Linked DNA regions of Homo sapiens. The protein of the gene in region 1 purifies or fractionates together with the protein of each later gene. This does not show direct contact. Each region holds a gene or a part of one and is shown in the gene's direction. Other genes may lie near its edges. The genes, in order: EPSTI1 and SNTG2.

Region 1 (9,294 bases):
GTAAGGCTTGAGACAGAAACATAATCCATTCTAAGTCTATTAATAATAATAATGGGAAGAGAAAATATATAGCACATTTCATAAGTAAGTGGTTTTTCTGCCAATATCAATTTATTTATCATTAAGCCATTCTTAATATGAATGTTAATACTAAATATTCTCTTGCTGGAAAAGAGAGTCCCCCTAGGGCCTCAGGTACACTTACGTTTTGTTGGATGTGCCAAGACCACTCTTTAACCTATTTCTTAGAGTTATTTATTTAGCTGGGAACCTTGAGAGATAAGGTTTGTTCTCCCAGGACAAAGACCAGGCTCACTTACTATCTGCTGTAAAAATGGTGTATTCCCGAAGGATTTTATCAGCTGCAATGCAAACACACCATGTGTGCAGCATCCATCCTGTTGCGCCCATCATAAGACTGGAGGCCAGAGAGAATAGATGTAAATAAGCTGGTGCTCATGCTGCCTACTGTGCCATCAGTAATAAAGTCTTTGACTCTGATCCAGGAATTTCATGTCTTCTGCCAGTGTCTGTGAAACAGTAACAGGCTAACTTATTAGCTTGTAAGTGGAATCCAATCAAATCCCAGACCTGACATCTCTATGTTCTGAAAATATGAATTTCTGACAGTTATTTTTACTGAGGAAGTAGTTACAAGACATTTTGTAAGTATACCTACCAGTTGGTCTCCATCTCAACGATGGTCCCATCATTGGTTTTTGGCCTCTTAAAGATGGTGAGTCTCTACAATATTGTACTTCATATACACTCTTTATATCTTTAGTGTGACTCCTTCTTGCTAACTTTTTTTTGTGTGGCTTTTACTTATGTGTGTGTGTGTGTTTAAGTGAAGAAATACATCATCTCAGGTCGATTCTATATGGTTGTGCAGATTGGTGACTACACACACTTGCCCAGCTAAGGTGTGATTTGTGGCTGAGATACATACCAAACCATGTATCTTAGTGTGGGATTACCTCCACCTGAAAGAAGCAGCACTTTTTTTCTAGTTTGCATGAATTTACAATATCTCAGTAAGCCATGGGGATCCTGGGTGTGTATGCCTCTCATTTTCTTAAAGGCATCCTATAAACAAAGGCCCCGATGATTTCCTGCTTATTTATCTGTCTTTACCCACTGTGTCTGTATTCAGCCGTCTAACAGAGGCAATGAGTTGTGCTGATGAAAGAACTAATCAATTACACATCAGCTTCTTGGGTGTGCAGACAGTATCTTAGCCTCTGTAGTTTCTGAGGCCAAAGACAATTCATAAATGTTTCCACACTGGAGATGTGGAATACTTGATCAGGGGTGGTATAATATAGGCTTAGGGGTCAAGGGTAATTCGCTCGGCCTGGTCTTGTCATTTTCTATTATTCTTGGGAATTTGATCTATGTATGAACAAACTTTTGGAAACCTAAATGCCTCAAAAGTTTTGACTCAATGTTGACTGAAAACAGTAAGTTTCTGATTCTTACATTGAAGGTCATGTAACAAAAACCAATATGGAATGTCTTATCTGGAAAGATAAGTATCGAAATGCCTTTGATTATCTCTAAGTCTTTTTTTTTCAATTTATATATACCCAAGGATAAGATTTTCTTGAACTATGAAAACTTCAACTTTTTGCAGGACTGTAGACTTTACATGTCTACTATTCTGCTTGAAATTATGTTTTTCACTTAATTTTCTCTTTCCGAACTTTTGCTCTTAACTGCATTTCTTTTTCTGTCAAACCAGTGTTGCTCCTAATTACAAATTTAAATTACATCTGGTGCAGTTTGTACACACCAGGGGATATTGTTATGTAATACTTTTAGCCAGCCAAGATATTTTTGATAACTTCAACATAACATTTTTTCAGAGTACTTATTGATAAAAAGTTATAAAAATTGTGCAAGAATGTACACACAAGATGCAGTTGTGTAACTCGAGAGACCTCGCAAGGAAAACTTTTTTTTTTTTTTTTGAGACGGAGTCTTGCTCTGTCGCCCAGGCGGGAGTGCAGTGGCGCAATCTCGGCTCACTGCAAGCTCCGCCTCCCTGGTTCACGCCATTCTCCTGCCTCAGCCTCCCAAGTAGCTGGAACTATAGGCGCCCACCACCACGCCCGGCTAATTTTTTTTGTATTTTTAGTAGAGACGGGGTTTCACCGTGTTAGCCAGGATGGTCTCAATCTCCTGACCTCGTGATCCGCCCGCCCTGGCCTCCCAAAGTGCTGGGATTACAGGCGTGAGCCACCGCGCCCGGCCAGGAAAACATTTCTTTTCTTTTTCTTTTTCTTTTTTTTTGAGACAGAGTTTCACTGTTATCGGCCAGGCTGGAGTGCAGTGGCATGATCGCAGCTCACTGCAACCTCTGCCCCCTGGGATCAAGCGATTCTCCTGCCTCAGCATCCCGAGTAGCTGGGATTACAGGCGTGTGCTATCACACCCGGCTAATTTTTGTATTTTTAGTAGAGACAGGGTTTTACCATGTTGGCCAGGCTGGTCTTGAACTCCTGACCTCAAGTGATCCACCCGCCTCAGCCCCCCAAAGTGCTGAGATTACAGGCATGAGCCACCGCGCTTGGCCAAACATTTCTTGAATATCTTTTTATTTTATGTTTCTTATGGTGCAGAAAAACATTTTATCTTGTCTGTTCTTTCATATATTCTCCCTCAGTATATCTCACGGATGTGCGCTGTTGGAAAGTGAAAATAATCTTACAAATTGAGATCTTTCATTAAATTTCAATGAGGTAATTAAGGAGACTCATTTTCAAATATATATATTTATTTCAGTGGCTTGAATGTTGCTTAATCAGGAAATGACAAGAATGCGAAATGTTGGTTGTTGGGCTTGTCTAGATTAGCAACTTTGAGAGTCAGGCTGTTGGAAGAGATAGCACATAGGTTAAAACAGCAAAGGCCTTTGCTGTGGGTACAAACTAATTGGCTGAAAACATTAATAAATTATACTTGCTCTTCATGTCAAGAGAAAGCTAAGAAAGAAGGGATGAATATTTGTATCTACTAAGGCATTACACTCTGACACATGATATTAAAAAATAAAAAGCATATCCTTTGACTTAAGCTCTTCTTCTTATATTAAGAAATAGAAATAGAAGCTAAGTTCCTTACCATTTACTTGGCAATGCTTTCTTGGGACTATTATAACATGTTTCAGATTTGGCATTTTCAGTCAATAAAATATTGCTGAGAAGGTTGCTGAGCAATTCACATAAAATTTACATAAAACGTTTATTACTGGGACCACTGCCTGGGTTTATGCTAAAATGCTTTCAGTAAAAACCCTCTAAATTCAGAGCTAATTCTTTCCCTTTATTTTATGTTTCTCTATTAGGTACCTGTAAGCTACACACATTGGCCATAGATTGACTGAAGTCCTATTCTTAAGATGGAAGATTCTAGTATGATGTCGGACTTAAAAACTTAACCAGATTAGATATTGTAGAATACAATCTTTTACAAATGAGTTGATTTTTCTCTCCAAACCTTTTGCAAAATTTCCGTAAGAGAGACTCATGGACTTGGAAAATTCTCTGTGAAGCTGCTTTTGGCAAAGTCCTGGCAAAGAAACACTTTTGCTATTTCAGATCCTATTCTTTAAGCCTCAACTTACTATTCTTATTTCGTGCTATTCAGTTTTTTACTCTTCTGAGGTCTCTATGAATCTCCACTGTTTTGGATCTCTGAGTACTTACATCATTCCCACTTTAAGACTTGTTTGGGTATTCTTTTTTAATTTATTTTTTATTTATTTATTTTTGTTTTTTTCCCCATCCAGAACTCATGTTGAGTGGTTGGATATTCTCGTGGGGTGCTTTTGTGGTTTCTTGACTTGTTCCTAACTAAAGTGTAAGTTCTGTTAAAGTGATTAGTATCCCTGTTCTGGAATCTCCCCTCACTCTCTACAAGCCCCTAATACAATAAATCCATAATAAGTGCCCAGTTAAGTAGGTTGCATTGTTTGGAAGTCTATCAAGGGACTAAAGTTAAAGGATGGTCATATTTTATGCTTTGCACATTGAGTTGAAAAGTTAGCTGCAGACAGAAAACTGATCTAAGTCAAAAGTCTTAGACTGGAGTCTCATCAGTGTTGCTCAATTGACCTGGTGATCTTTGGCCTGAGATTCAACCTCTGTGTCTTTACCAGTGATTTATGAATACCTAAGTTTTCTTTTATCCCAAATGTTCTAAGATAGCTTGATTGCTCTATAGTAGTGGTTTTCCAAGTGTGGTACCTAGATCAAGAACAGCATCATCTTGGAACTTGTTAAAAATGTAAGTTATTTGACCCAGTCGCAGGCTACTGAATTAGAAACTCTCAAGCTCGCGGACAAGCCCTCCTGGTGATTATGATGCACGATAAAGGCTGAGAACTACTGATCTGGAGTATAGTCAAATTTGTGGTATAGAGAGAAGCTCTATACCACAATGTTAGCAGACATTGAAGATTGTGTAGCAATTTCATGATTGGCATTTACGTCTCGTATCTGATGTTTCAGCTTTCAGTCTCTGTAGCATGGCTCACCATTGCATCATATTCAAGTTTCCAGGGACTACCCACGGGATTGTAGCTTCCAAGCTCCTAAAAAGTACTGGCAATTCAGAAGTGAAAAATGTTTCTTAGGGTGTACAAAGAATGTGCAATGGACAAGGGATTAATTGCCAGTGGCAGTCTCCTAATTTTGTATTCATAACGTTGTATGCATGCTAGGCTACACATGCAACGTCTGCTGATATACATTAAGTAATTGGGCATCCAGCAGCCCCATTTGCATGCAAAGGCTGTTGCACACCTCACATTTACAAGTCTAAAATTAAAGCCCAGTTTGAAGCTGGCTGAAGGCTAGCTGCTAGAAAAATAATGAGATAAGGAAGGAAATGGCTTCTGTTGATCAGTGCTTTTGGCCTCTACAGTTCAATCTTTGCTAATTTGCCCTTTGAAATTGTGTATTCAGGTAGAAGAGAGAGACTTCCAAGAGTATCTGGGTGGGGTTTTTTCCCTCCCTCTTAAATCCTACAGTTAGAAGCTGGTTGTGTTTATCCACAGCATTTCTCTTAAAACTGTACCTACATGTATGCTGCAGTCTGTTGCTGTGCTATATTATTGCTTAATGGAGTATTCATGTTCTTGTGGGATCACGTGCATCATCTCAAAAAAGAGCCACCCCCACACAGACTCACAGGCTGGGTCTGTAGCATCATTTTGTTTTAATTCAGCCCACATTTATCAAGCAGCCAATGTCTTTGTGCCAGACACTGTGCCAGGGGCTTGGAATACACATCAATCAAGCACACTCTCTGCCCTCAAAAGCTCACAATATTTTAACAGCTTCCTAGTGTCACAGAGGTGAATATTTTTCTTAAAAAGTCTTCCCTGATCCGCCTGGTTGAAATGACTCCTTGCTTCTCCGAGCCCCTGATTATGCTCAACCTGTGTCCCTAGGAGAAGAAGAGACCAGTGGACATAGGCCTAGAAAAGTCAAAGCCTAAAAGCCAGTTAGTTACTCAGATCATCAAGAGGAGGTGGCTGCATTGCAAATGGCCTCTAGGATCAGTCTGTGGGAACAGAAAATGTACCAATGTTTCCTGTACCCCGGTGTGGTCACACAGAAGAGAATGCCAATCTAAAGCCATCTTAAAGGAATTTACTCACAAGCACCACCTAGAGGAACGGTGGAGCCCTACAAGGACAGTACACCAACTAGTCACTTGTCACTCATCGAATGCTTTATATTTTCATATTTGGCCATGTCCTTTGTTTTACTTTGACATCAAGATTGTGAGGTCCCAGAGAACAGATCAGGGTCTTAAGAAGATTATCTTTCATAGTGCCTATTTGATGGTAATGATCATAAATACAGTATAATAGAAGGAAAAATATCTGGTGGCTTATATGCATTGGTAGTTTCTCATGGTAATAAGCATTTTTTTTTCTCTTCCTTTTAGCACAAGTGCATACACCTTGATAGCACCAAATATAAACCGGAGAAATGAGATACAAAGAAGTATGTATAGTCATTCATTTAACATTCAGAATGCTTCTCTCTTTTTACAATTGGTTTGTTTTGGTGTGAAGTATTTTTATTTTCTCATTTATATAGACTCACCAAATCTCATCAAGGTTTTTTGTTTTTTTTAGTTTTGATTATACCTTTAAAAATATTCTACTATTAACACTTCTAAGTTTGTTTCTCTACGTTAGTAACAGAACTCATGACATGATGGTAGATCCTGGATTTCTGTTGGCTTGAACAACTTTACACTTATTGCCAATAAACCTCCTTGAGGGTAGGGACCACATCTTACTCGTTTTTGTGCTCTCTGTACTTAATGCGTACATAACATGTTTAATTGATGTACAGTAAATATAAATGCTGCCATTTAAAGTTATAGCATTATCCTTTAGAGGTGGAAGAGAACTAAAGTTCATTTAGTTCACAAAGAAATTGTAGGCTTGCTCAAGTCCAGCTGTGGGGCTATGCTGAAATTCGATGGTCTCCTTTATTACATGATTGGTAGGAAATTTAACTTCATGACTAATGATGGACAGAAAGGCACAAAAGGGAAAAAGCTCTCTAAAGAGTCTCCACCGGACATGTAGCTCCGGGTGGGACAGCGGGTCAGTGCAGAATATGACAATCACAGCCATGCAGGGACTATGGGAACTGCCAGCAGTTCTGGTATCTTACAAGCTTTTGATTTAAATACTTAATAGGAGATTAAGTCTCAATGTGGTCTGGATTTCGAAATGTTTCAGAATTTGTTTTTCTAGTAATGGACATTTGAAACAGGTCTCATGAGGAGATAAGGGGAGGCGCTGGAGTGACAGAACTAATTTCTCTCTGGCGCCCCCTGCTGTCGTGCAGAGTGAACATTTAGGAAATGAGCCCTGCTCCCCAGGAAGCCGACTCTGCACAGTGGTCTGGAGTGCCTGAAACCAGAGCAAGGGTCTCCACCTGTAGCACCGAGCCCTCATTCCCTAGAGTCGCAGTAAGCTTGGGAGCATTGAAGATAAAGCGAGTATGGGCATCAGAATTCTCTGGGGATATGTTTACCTATGTGTGGAAAGTTCTTATTGACGTGAAAATATTCTAGTTTTGCACACATTTTCTATAGGTAACTTTAAAAATTAACTTGATATAGAGTTTTAAAAATGCCAGAATGGTAGGAAAATCTATACTTCTTTTAGTAGGAGCCCAGGTGGTTTTTCAAATTCGAACCCTCTGTGCTGACTCTTGGTGAGAATGTGCCACAGGGCCGGGCCCAGGATGACCTGTACGGGTCAGGGCTGAATATTGTGTTTCTAACCTGGAAGCCTTGTTCACTCATGCTCACATATAGTTAATTGCCTTCTAATAGTTGTTTCTTATGCTTTGAAGGGACTGGTTTTCTTTTAGAAGTCTAATAATTGACGATTTGATATTTCTCGCCTGGCTTAGTTGCGGAGCAGGAGCTGGCCAACCTGGAGAAGTGGAAGGAGCAGAACAGAGCTAAACCGGTTCACCTGGTGCCCAGACGGCTAGGTAAGCAAGCACAGCCGCTGCCGGAATGAGGGAGGGCGGGGCCACCTATGGATCCTGTAAGCAGCTTGCATATGTCTGTCTGTGAATGTCCATTGTAGTTTGTTTGGTCATTGTGCTGCTTGGGTGGAATGCATTTAATTGTGTGTGTGTGTGTGTGTGTGTGTGTGTGTGTATTTTTTTTTTTTTCTGATTTTCTGCAAGTAGCAAACCTGTAATGCCAGAGTTCTATGGGAACACAGTGATGGCTTAATTGCCAAATAATTTAGAGCCTCTTAGATGATTGACTCTGAAAAAGCTTACCTGGGGCGCTGCATATGCCCTGTCATAGCACTAGTCAGGATGGGAGTAAATGCTGGCACAAGCATATTAATCATGGCAGTTAAATGTTAATCTGAAGAAAAGGAGTGGAGAGTCAGTTCCAAGAGGGAGATGAGAGTGAGCTGGAAACCCGGTGGTGGGTATAAGAGAAACATCACCTGTGTTTTTATTCTACAGATAGAGACCTCTGGGCCTCTGGAGCAGGTGCTGCCAGTGTGATGAATTGTCTGGGCCGCCTTTGCCGGTGTTTGAATCATTCAGAAGGGATGCCACCTAATGGGAATCATTCACATCTTTTCTTTGCTTTTTCTCTTCTATCAGCAGCCGAAAATTTAAAGGGTTGGACACACAGTGTCCACAGATTTAGTTAATACAAGCATGTCTTGTGTCAGGGGCCACTTACGGTTGTGATAGTTTTAGAGAAGTTCCCTCCCCACACCCTGCCCCCCCACCAAGAACATAGGTAAAAATAATCTAATTTGGAAATTATTTAATGGGAGGAAGTAATAGTAATATTATCATCATCCCACTGTATTTCGTGAAAAGGGCTAATCTCAAGTGCCTCCTTTGTGCAAATGAGCCAGACTCGAAGGGTACAATCAGAAAACAGCTTTAATCTTTCCTAGCTTGGCCCCTGAGATTGGCTATGTGAGAACAGTCTTTCTCAGGCTTTTTGGATGATGTAAGAAATTAAAGCTTTTTGGTCTCTTTCAAACAGTAGAGTGACCTAGCTAATTCTAGGCCTAAAACAGTCTCATTTCAGTAATTAATGTTCAGTCTTAGGTACTGATCAAAATTCTGTTACTAATGGAGATGAGAGCTTCTCCCCTGCTCTAACCCAGGCCTGTTTCAGGTAGGAATCCAGCAAGTAGAACAGGGTGTGGCTGGACTTTTCTCTATTCATGGCTCTGTTCCCAGATTCTGACCTTTCTGGGATTGAAGGGGGAAGTGGAGGGAGATAAGAGAGTTCGGGGTTCGTAATGCAGTGATCCTTGTTTCTTTGAGCCTAGGTTTACACTGACTGCTCGTTCTTCTTCCTGGGAATCTTCGAGTTTTTCAGCATCCCCCACTCTCTGCTACCCATCTCCCACCTGGATTTCCCTGATACAGACGATTTCCTCTCCTGTCGGCAGGGCTTGGCCTCACTGTTGGCTCTTGGTAGACTCCTTTTAGGGTTCCATTGTTCTTGACATGGCCCTCATAGGCAAGTCCCTTTAGATGGCTTTAGGTTGGCATTCTCTTTCATGAGAATCACATTAAAAGTACAGGAAATACTTGTGCATTCTTTCTTTTCATAAACTGTGAATGTGGGCCATTTGTAATGTAGCTACCTCTTCTTGAGGACTCATCTCAGTGGCCAATGGACAACAGCCTTATACCTTTAGGCTCTAACTGTTCTAGGCATGAATCCAATAAGACCCTCAGACTCTTAAAAATGCAG
Region 2 (9,294 bases), on another chromosome or scaffold:
ACTTTTCTTTGTCTCGAGTGAACACTTTATTTGTGGCCTGAATTTCTGGTAAAAATGACTTTTTTTTTTCCCCTGAGACGGAGACTTAGTTGCCCAGGCCAGAGTGCAGTGATATGATCTCGGCTCACTGCAACCTCCGCCTCCCAGGTTCAAGGGATTCTCCTGCCTCAGCCTCCCAAGCAGCTGGGACTACAGGCCCGCCACCATGCCTGGCTATGTTTTGTATTTTTAGTAGAGACGGGGTTTCACCATGTTGGTCAGGCTGGTCTTGAACTCCTGACCTCAGGTGATCTGCTGGCCTCAGCCTCTCAAAGTGCTGGGATTACAGGCATGAGCCACCATGCCCAGCCCACCATGACTTTTTAATGAACAAGTTACTACATAGTTCCTGAACTTAAATTAGCCCTCTTTATTAATATTTAATATGGACTATTTAGAAATGCCACTGCATGACAGGGAAGTAGAAAAAATATATTTTTCTAAATTGTACTAAAAAATAATATACTACAGAGACAGTTTTAAAATAAAATATGTGAACGAAATTTCAAGATTTTTCAAATTCTGAAACATACACGTTCTGTTTTTGTCTCGAGTACTCGTAATTTTCAGTCATGAGCTAAAATACACACACATGCACACACACACACATGCACACTCTCCTTATTTTCCAAAGCATGAAGGCTTAAAGTAAACAGGCATGTGTGCAATGCACACCTTTCCTCTCTGTTACCACAGGCACAGAGGGAGGTGGTGGCCAGAGCCGACAGGGAGTGACAGGCTGTGGTTGTAATGAAGGCCACCAGCCATCATTTATGGATGAAAGCTTCCTTGGTTAAATTTTGTACGTTCCAATGTATTTATTCTTTAAAAACTGGACAGCTTATTAAAAAGGCGATTTACACATTTTGACTTTCTCCGGCATTGAAGCTTTGACGAGCAATTAAGAATTCTCAGTTTTTAGGGTCAAATTTTATAGTTACTGGAATCCCACAGCACAAGGGAAGCAGAAGGTTGGAAGAGTGGTCATTGGTAGCGGATGTAGCAGGGGTCTCGGTTTGGGGCTTTAATGACAACTGCTAATGCTCTGTGATTGGTTTCCGCTGAAACAGATGATTTGAAAAAGGGTCAAATCTGTTGAGGTGTGTTTTGTGACAGGAAGATTCCCAGCGGTGTGGGCGGGATTCGGAGGCCTTTCTGCATGTGGACAGGAAGACCGCAGCGAAGGCAGGCAGTGTGACCGGGCACATGAGAGCTGGGCTGTGGGGCTTTTCCCGGCAGGAGCCGCAGGGTGCAGGGTTGAGGCTGGCACTGAGCCCACAGTCAAGAGCGCAGGAAGAACGGCTTAAACAGACTGGCTGTCCTCCACAGGAGGTGGAGACCTGAGCACGTAACTTCAATTCCTTAATGTCCTAATACGTTAAGACATGTGCTTTGAACGTTATTGGAATAAATTTATTTCTCTTAGCCAAAAACTGAATTGATTCACTTTCTAGAGTATAAGTCTATTTTCAGTTTTCTCTTTGGAATTGAAAAATTCTCTAAGGGCACGAGGAAACCCTGGGAGGAGGGTAGACTTTTCAAAAGTGCCGACACAGTCAGTGCTTGACTTCCCCATGGATGGCGAGTGTCTGGGAGCTGGTTTGGTTTCTTCTCGGTGGACCCCGGGGTGCCAAGCGCTCTGCCTTCACTTGGTGTGGCTTTGCTTACAGCAGCTTCCTACAATCTCATGTGTGTCCATCAAAGAGCATGTTAGCTCCTGAGCAGCAGATGCTCTGTGAATTTTAGCTCCGATAATGACCTTGGCCACGTGAACACCATCCTAAAAGGCCTGAGCGGCCACCATGAGGCGGGTAGAGAGGCCGGGTTCCAACTGTGAGCCACGGAGGAAACTCGGAGGAAACCGTGAAACTCGGAGGAAACAAAGGCCCAGAAATGCCCTGGAAGAAGCGGCTCCTGATCTTGCATCCAGACGTGCCTGAAAGCAGATTGCGTGACTTACACTAGTTACCCGGCTTCTATAACAATAAACCAAACAGTGAACCAACAGTGAGCCACGCTGTGAACTTTCTTTCCCTGTTTCATTAACATGTTAGTATCTGCCATCAGCATTCATGTCAACAACTTTCACAGTTTCTGTTCATTTGATACTTAATTTTTATTGCTTTCTTTGATAAATTACAGACTAATAATGTTTATATGGTACTTACGGGCTTACAAATAACTTTGTTTCAGTTATCCCATTTGTTCCTCTCAGTATTCCTATTTTGTGGTACGGTTGGCATTTGAAGCCCATCGTACGGACAAGGAAAGCCCAGCTCAGAGGTGAGATGTCCAGCCTGCCTCATGAAGCTATGGCATAAACGTGCCTGGACTGCAGACGCCTTCCTTTTTATTGCAGGACACAGCCGTCTGCCCCTCGTGCGAGTCCGTGAGCCTCTGGGGCTCCACGTGCATTCACTGCCTCAGGGGGCAAAGCTGATGATCTTTCTCAAGACCACAGCATCGATAAAGGGTCCTTCATGGAGCCTGGGTCCACTGTCTCTACTCACATCTTATTCCTGCTACATCAATGATGGTGTAAACCTCCAAAGGCAGAGTTAGGACTCTGGACTCAGATTCCTTCTCACCACTGACTTTACGAGGATGACCACAGTACTGACCCTGCTGAGAGCACCCAGTGTTCAGTCATCCATGCATTTGGTGCATACGTCACCAACCCTGAGAATCAGGAAATGCCAACTCCCTGAGAAGACACTGTCGTTAGTACATGTGAGCTGGAGCCAAGCGGTGACCATGCGTGTCCTTCACACGCCCTCACGCGCAACCAGGGACCCCCAATTCATGAGAGGGGGGACCCCTGCCCCCATGCTGCCCTGAGGTCCCTGCAGGCCCCACCAGGCACCCCCGATTCATGAGAGGGGGCGCCCCTACCCCACTCTGCCCTGAGGTCCCTACAGGCCCCACCAGGCACCCCCGATTCATGAGAGGGGGCGCCCCTACCCCATGCTGCCCTGAGGTCCCTGCAGGCCCCACCAGGCACACCCTATTCATGAGAGGGGGGCCCCTGCCCCACGCTGCCCTGAGGTCCCTGCAGGCCCCACCAGGCACCCCCGATTCATGAGAGGGGGGACCCCTGCCCCACGCTGCCCTGAGGTCCCTGCAGGCCCCACCAGGCACCCCCGATTCATGAGAGGGGGCGCCCCTACCCCATGCTGCCCTGAGGTCCCTGCAGGCCCCACCAGGCACACCCTATTCATGAGAGGGGGGCCCCTGCCCCACGCTGCCCTGAGGTCCCTGCAGGCCCCACCAGGCACCCCCGATTCATGAGAGGGGGGACCCCTGCCCCACGCTGCCCTGAGGTCCCTGCAGGCCCCACGAGGCACCCCCGATTCATGAGAGGAGGCACCCTTACCCCCACGCTGCCCCAGGATCCCTGCAGGCCCCCTAGTCTAGCTGGATCCAGGAAAAGCTGCCCCTGGCCCACACTGGCACCACCCCCTGTTCCTCCCCAGGCCTTTGGAGAAGAACAGGCTCTTCTGAAAGAATAAAAGCGTAGAGCTCTGAGATGGGGAAAATTGGAGGATGGGACACAGGGAACTTTTGAGGATTCTTCTAAAGTCTGTTTTTGGTCTGAGAGTTGGTTGGCCAAGAGTATGGAATACATGACTGTTTATCGAGGTGTTCACTGGTGAGTTGTGTGCGTGTGTGTGTGTCCTGTAGCTCAATGTAAAATATGCCTAAAAATAATAGTCTCTGACCTCTTCATGTGGGGAGCCAGGGAACTTGGCTGTCGTCCGCAATAATCTACTTGACCCAGCTGTTTATTAACCACTAGATTAAGGTCAGCCTTGCTTTGTATATGTCGCACCAGTTAACATGAACAAATGAGAAATGATGGCAATGAACCCATTTTTAGTTAGCACTTACTTTAATAAGAATTAATGGATACTTGGACAAAAGTGTAGATATAAGTCTGTCAATATTTAATAAGCACCTAATTCATGTGGAATATTACACAATCTGCCTAAAATAGTCTCCCAGCATTTTGAAGTGTAAAAATTAATTTATTATAGCAGACATCCAGGACCAAAGGCCCCACGGGAAGCGATGGATCCTGAGGGACAGGTGCTCCCCAGGAGGACCAGGAAAGGTGATCAGAAAGGGCTGTGCGAAGGTGGAGGCAGAGCTGCCTGCCCTCCCCATGCAGGGGACCTGCTTCCTCTGGCTTCTTCCCCTCTCCGGCTCCACACAGTCACCTCCACCTTCACCTCTGTCCTCCTGCCAAGTCAAGAGTACCTTGTTCATCGCCATCAGGCAGAATATCAGCCACAAGTAGATAAACCTCACATTCTGATTCAAGAAACACTAATTAGAATGAGAATGACCCCTAGACAGGGATGTCAGCTTTTTAAAAGAATGACTTTTAAAATAGCAAACTCTGGTCTGATAGATTTGGCTCAAAAATATGCAGAACTGTGTTATACCATCTCTGTTTCCTACCCCTTCTCCTACACACCCCACCTTGCCTAAGAAAGCAGCGATGACACTCACATTTGAAAGATTATTAGAACATAGCTTAGTGATGACTTATTTTTTTAAAAAAATATGTTTGCTTTGTTCTGTATTTTATCTTCAGTTAGCTGCTTGAGACCATGGAGGTATTATGAGTCATATACATTAATATGCATTGTTTTCTTTTTTTCTTTTTTTTTTCAGATAGGGTCTCACTCTGTTGCCCAGGCTGGAGTGCAGTGGTGTGATCTCGGCTCACTGCAACCTCTGCCTCCTGGGTTCAGGAGATTCTCCTGCCGTAGCCTTCCGAGTAGCTGGAGCTACAGGTGTGTGCCACCATGCCCGGCTAATTTTTGTATTTTTCGTAGAGATGGGACTTCACCATGTTGGCCAGGCTGATTTCGAACTCCTGACCTCAAGTGATCCACCTACCTCAGTCTTCCAACGTCCTGTGATTATAGGCGTGAGCCACTGCGCCCGGCCAATATGCACTATTTTCTTAAGAAAAAGTCTATAAAAGTGTACATGACATTTCTCTTTTGCAAATAGGCATATGTAAAGTATGTTTTTAAAAAATATTGCATGACAGGGAAGAACTACTGAATTTGAGACGGTTGGTTGTTAATACTTTGCCATGATTGAGTTCTCAGCAAGTGGAGTGTCATGGAGCAGTGGAAGGGGACTATGTTCTCCCAAAGCTCCCCTGTCAATCAGAAGCACACAGGTGGTCCTAGAGAAGGGTGGATGCTGAGTGCAGAGGGTGCTGGGCTGCTCCAGCCTCACCCCATCAGGAGCTTTAAGTGCTCCATCCAAAGGGTCTTCGAAAGAATAACCAGTAAGAATCCTGCAGACAATAACTCCAGAATTTCAGGAGCACTGTTCTTTCCTTGACAAAGTGCTTTTCATGTTTCATCGAATTAGAAGTAGCTCCTGTTACCAAGGGAATTCGGGGTTTGGTCTTGGTCTCAGCGAGCCTGCTGACTGTACTGAGGCGCCTGAGGAAGTGGTGCAGTTGCCCCATGTCCTGGGTCCAGGGTAGAGCCCTGCTGAGCATCAGCCTCGAAACTCACGGAGGCAGGCCCGCTCCCGTCGCTGCGGGGCCTCCTGGACAGCTCTCTCCCTCCCCAGGTGGAATGCGTTCGAGGTGCTCGCCCTGGACGGAGTCAGCTCTGGGATCCTCCGGTTTTACACAGCCCAGGATGGCACCGACTGGCTGCGGGCGGTCTCAGCCAACATCAGGGAGCTGACACTTCAGAACGTGAGCACACGGTGTTTCTGAGTCTCTGCTGATGCTCATTCGTGCATGAAAAATAATGGAGACATCATGTTTCTGATGATTTATGATTAACCCGAAACAGAAAATCATGTACTTGTTTCAATGTGTCAAATCTATGTCTAAAAACATTAAAAATGAAGCCATCAGAATGTTTCCAAATCAAAGAGTAAGGCAATGTCTAACAGCTGAGAATTTCCCATCTGGTTTTGTCTTCCTCCTCCCCTCTGTCTGCCTCTGTCTCTCTCCCTCCCTTCCTCTCTCTTTCTCTCCACACACATATACAGAAATAGTTATATGTCATAATTTTATATTTTACCCAAATGCATTGATACAGTGTGACATTTTGAGTTGGGGAAACCTAATTGAGTTAAAAGTATAATTCTCCCAAACATTATGAAGATTTAGAAAAAGGCATAATTGAGCAAAAACATTACTTCTCAAATTTGTACTGCAGTCCCCCAGAAACGAAAAAGTATTCTGTCCCCTTAAGTGATGTTTGATATTAAAAGTCAACAGGATTTTAAAAATTAAAGAAATGAAAAGAGATGGGGTGGGAACGAAGACTTGATGACACGGGCGTTGCCTGGAGTGATGGGTGCCTGGACTCGGACATGGAGCCGTGGCCGCAGCCCTGGCAACTGTGGCAGGACTGGCCGTGCCTGGAGGCGGCCCTGGACCAGCCTTGCTGCCCTTGCTCCCTCTAAGCTGAGTTGCCCTGTAATTGCACTTCGATCCCTGCTCTGTTCCTTCGCAGCCTGGAGGCTGCAGAGGCTGGGTCCAGCTTGCAGACTGGCCAGGCGTGGCCCACCCTGCGGCCCTGCAGATGCACCCGCCCTGCCCCTGCCCTGCCCACCACCTCACGTCTCCCTTGCAACCTCCCTTCTTCCTGTGGCTGCAAAACAGAAGTTAACCTAACACTGGGGGAAGCAGCAATGTGTGACATTTCTCCTGTGAAGACCTCAGGGGCTTCCTTTCTGCAAGCAGAGAAGGAAGTACCAGGACCTTCCTAACATTGTAGTTTTCAAACGCAACACTTTAAATTCCAAAGTTATCTCAATAAATAGGGAAGAAAGGATGGTGCTTGACTTATATTTGCAGAAATGTTTGTGACGAGGAGCGCCCTTCAGTTCTGTCATTTCACAAATCAGCCCTCATAGGCAGGGCAGAGAAGTCAGACACCCCAATATTTCAGAACAGAAATGTGGACTCTGAGCTGCCTCCCGGCTGTGTGGCTGTGGGCTGTGGGAACATTATGATTCTGCACCTCCACTTCCTCGGTGAAATTTTGGAAAACAACATCTACCTCCATAGGTCATTGGGAGAACTAAATAAAAGAAAGAATATCAACTGTGATCACCGTAATTACCATCACAGTAATACTGACTCTCACAAGGTTATGTAGAGCAGAAATCATTTCCTCACTTTTCTCAGATATTGGAATTTAAGCACCTGCTCTTGAAGTGTAACTTCACTTACATAAATGCTGATATTTGAAAAAGAGGAATTGAAGCCTGCTAGTAAAGTTGTTTTCTACTGCTGCCATGTTTGTATTGACTCTGGCTAGGTCTTCAGATAGGAAATATGTCATTAAAGAGGCCTGTTTCCCAGGACAGAGCGTGGCTGATGACTTCCAGCTGTCACTCAGGTGAGCCATCCTGGTGTTGGTGGCTGTGGCCCTGACTCTTCTGCCTTCTCTCCACAGATGAAGATGGCGAACAAATGCTGCTCTCCTTCCGACCAGGTAGGGTTTGTATTTTCTGCTTCATGATGTAACACATCAGGTAGGGTTTGTATTTTCTGATTCATGATGTAACACATCTCGAAAAGCAGTCTCTGGTTTTTTGAAATTTGATTTGAAAATGTTGATAGGAAAACATTAGCACATTTCAGACTGCATTTGGTGGTCTCTGCCCTGCCTGTTAATTCTATAAAACTGCTCTTTCTGTGGGAATAGCATAGGTCATTCTGATCTCCTGTGTATAGATTATTTCTCTATTGGCAGTTATGTTTTGTAAAGAATCGTGATTTAAATGATGATTTAGATATGATTGTTTAAACTGAGAAGGGCTTTGAGATGACACACCTGTGTAATTTGAAATTTTAAGCATTATATTATTTTCTTAAATAAAATCCTTACTAGGAAAGCTTCATTCTCAGGAGGGCTTTGGCCCAGTGGGTGTTATTGCCAGTGGGTAGGATCCTGTCATCCCCAAATCCAGGCAGTTTGTTCACCTGGAGCCCAGAGCCCTTAACGTTGTCCTGGATTCAGGATAGCTACCTTTGTAGCCACCCTCAGGCCTGATTTTCTGCTCACTTCCCACGTCTATGAGTACTTAGGAAAACTCTATGGTAATCAAGCTGTTTCAATATCAGCCAAATCAGTTTTTAAGCCACTGTGTTATTCTTCTGTTTCCTTTATAATAAACTTATGATTTAACTTGTAATGTAAGGGAGTATGTTATTTATAGTTCATTCATTTTCTGGTTACATCTCTTAGGGGCGTAAGGAAGCATGCATCATAGCCTCAAGTTAAGAAAACTGAGAAAAACATGTTCGCTTTGCTTTAAATAGCGCACAAAAGACTTTAAATAGTGCTTAGCAAGAATATTTGAATTCACGATGGAGGACTTGAGAAGAGCAGGTCCTCTGCCTATGAAATATTTACTAAAACAATGGGAAAATAGGGCTGTGTTTTAAATTAAACCTCTCTAGTCAACATTTCTACATTAGAAAAGAAACACTAAGAATAAATGGTTCTTCTAACTTTTATCTCTTTTAATATTATTCTAAAATTACCATCAACTATTTTTGTTTACATAGATATTTTATGATTAATATTTCTATAAATTCTTCAAATTAATATAGGATTCATTTCATATTCTTATACATAAAATATCATTTCCCTACTATGTGTTTTTGAAACAGAAGTTCTGAAACTTTTCCACAAAGTACATATCTCTCTATGGTTCACACAGGAAACAGCCTTTATCAAGGCTGGTGGGACAGTGGGCCAAAGTTTTGACATGATCTCTATGAATAATTTACCATTTTGAAATTGCATCTTATTCACACACGCAAAATTAGCAAAATGTTTCCTGAGATCCTCTTTATGGCAAAGCTGAGACTCTTCCGAGATCTTAGGAGGAGCCGCAGCTTCTGGTATTTCTCAGTGTTGGCTGCTTCTTCCCTGTTTCTCAGTTTGTTCGTCATGAGGACAGCCGTCCTCTCCCGACCCTCAGAGGGGTTGTCACCTTGCAGACAGATCCTTGATGCTAAACAGTGATGTCCGCAAGTGGAGAGCATACGTGGGAATGGGCAGCATTTATGGACTTGGCCTTTACGTGTTTCAGAGAAATGCTGACTTTTGTAGCTATACTGGAATTACTCCTCATGTTGGAAAGAGCACTGCTCCGGAGAGGAAAGCATTTTCTTTTTTTTTTATTATTATTATTATACTTTAAGTTTCAGGGTACATGTGCACAACGTGCAGGTTAGTTACATATGTA

The links.
Region 2: the proteins of EPSTI1 (region 1) and SNTG2 purify together in Homo sapiens (affinity purification with mass spectrometry; 2 studies listed by BioGRID and IntAct, with this or other methods). This does not show direct contact.

The regions. Positions count from the first base shown.
Region 1 is NC_000013.11:42,967,335-42,976,628, reverse strand, and holds part of EPSTI1 (epithelial-stromal interaction protein 1), read left to right. Parts: intron 1-506; exon of another isoform or gene 507-3,861; intron 3,862-3,883; exon of another isoform or gene 3,884-5,854; intron 5,855-5,957; exon of another isoform or gene 5,958-5,958; coding exon 5,959-6,017; exon of another isoform or gene 6,018-7,002; intron 7,003-7,451; coding exon 7,452-7,535; intron 7,536-9,294. UniProt on the Homo sapiens protein: Plays a role in M1 macrophage polarization and is required for the proper regulation of gene expression during M1 versus M2 macrophage differentiation.
Region 2 is NC_000002.12:1,232,248-1,241,541, forward strand, and holds part of SNTG2 (gamma-2-syntrophin), read left to right. Parts: intron 1-5,640; coding exon 5,641-5,770; intron 5,771-7,490; coding exon 7,491-7,529; intron 7,530-9,294. UniProt on the Homo sapiens protein: Adapter protein that binds to and probably organizes the subcellular localization of a variety of proteins. May link various receptors to the actin cytoskeleton and the dystrophin glycoprotein complex.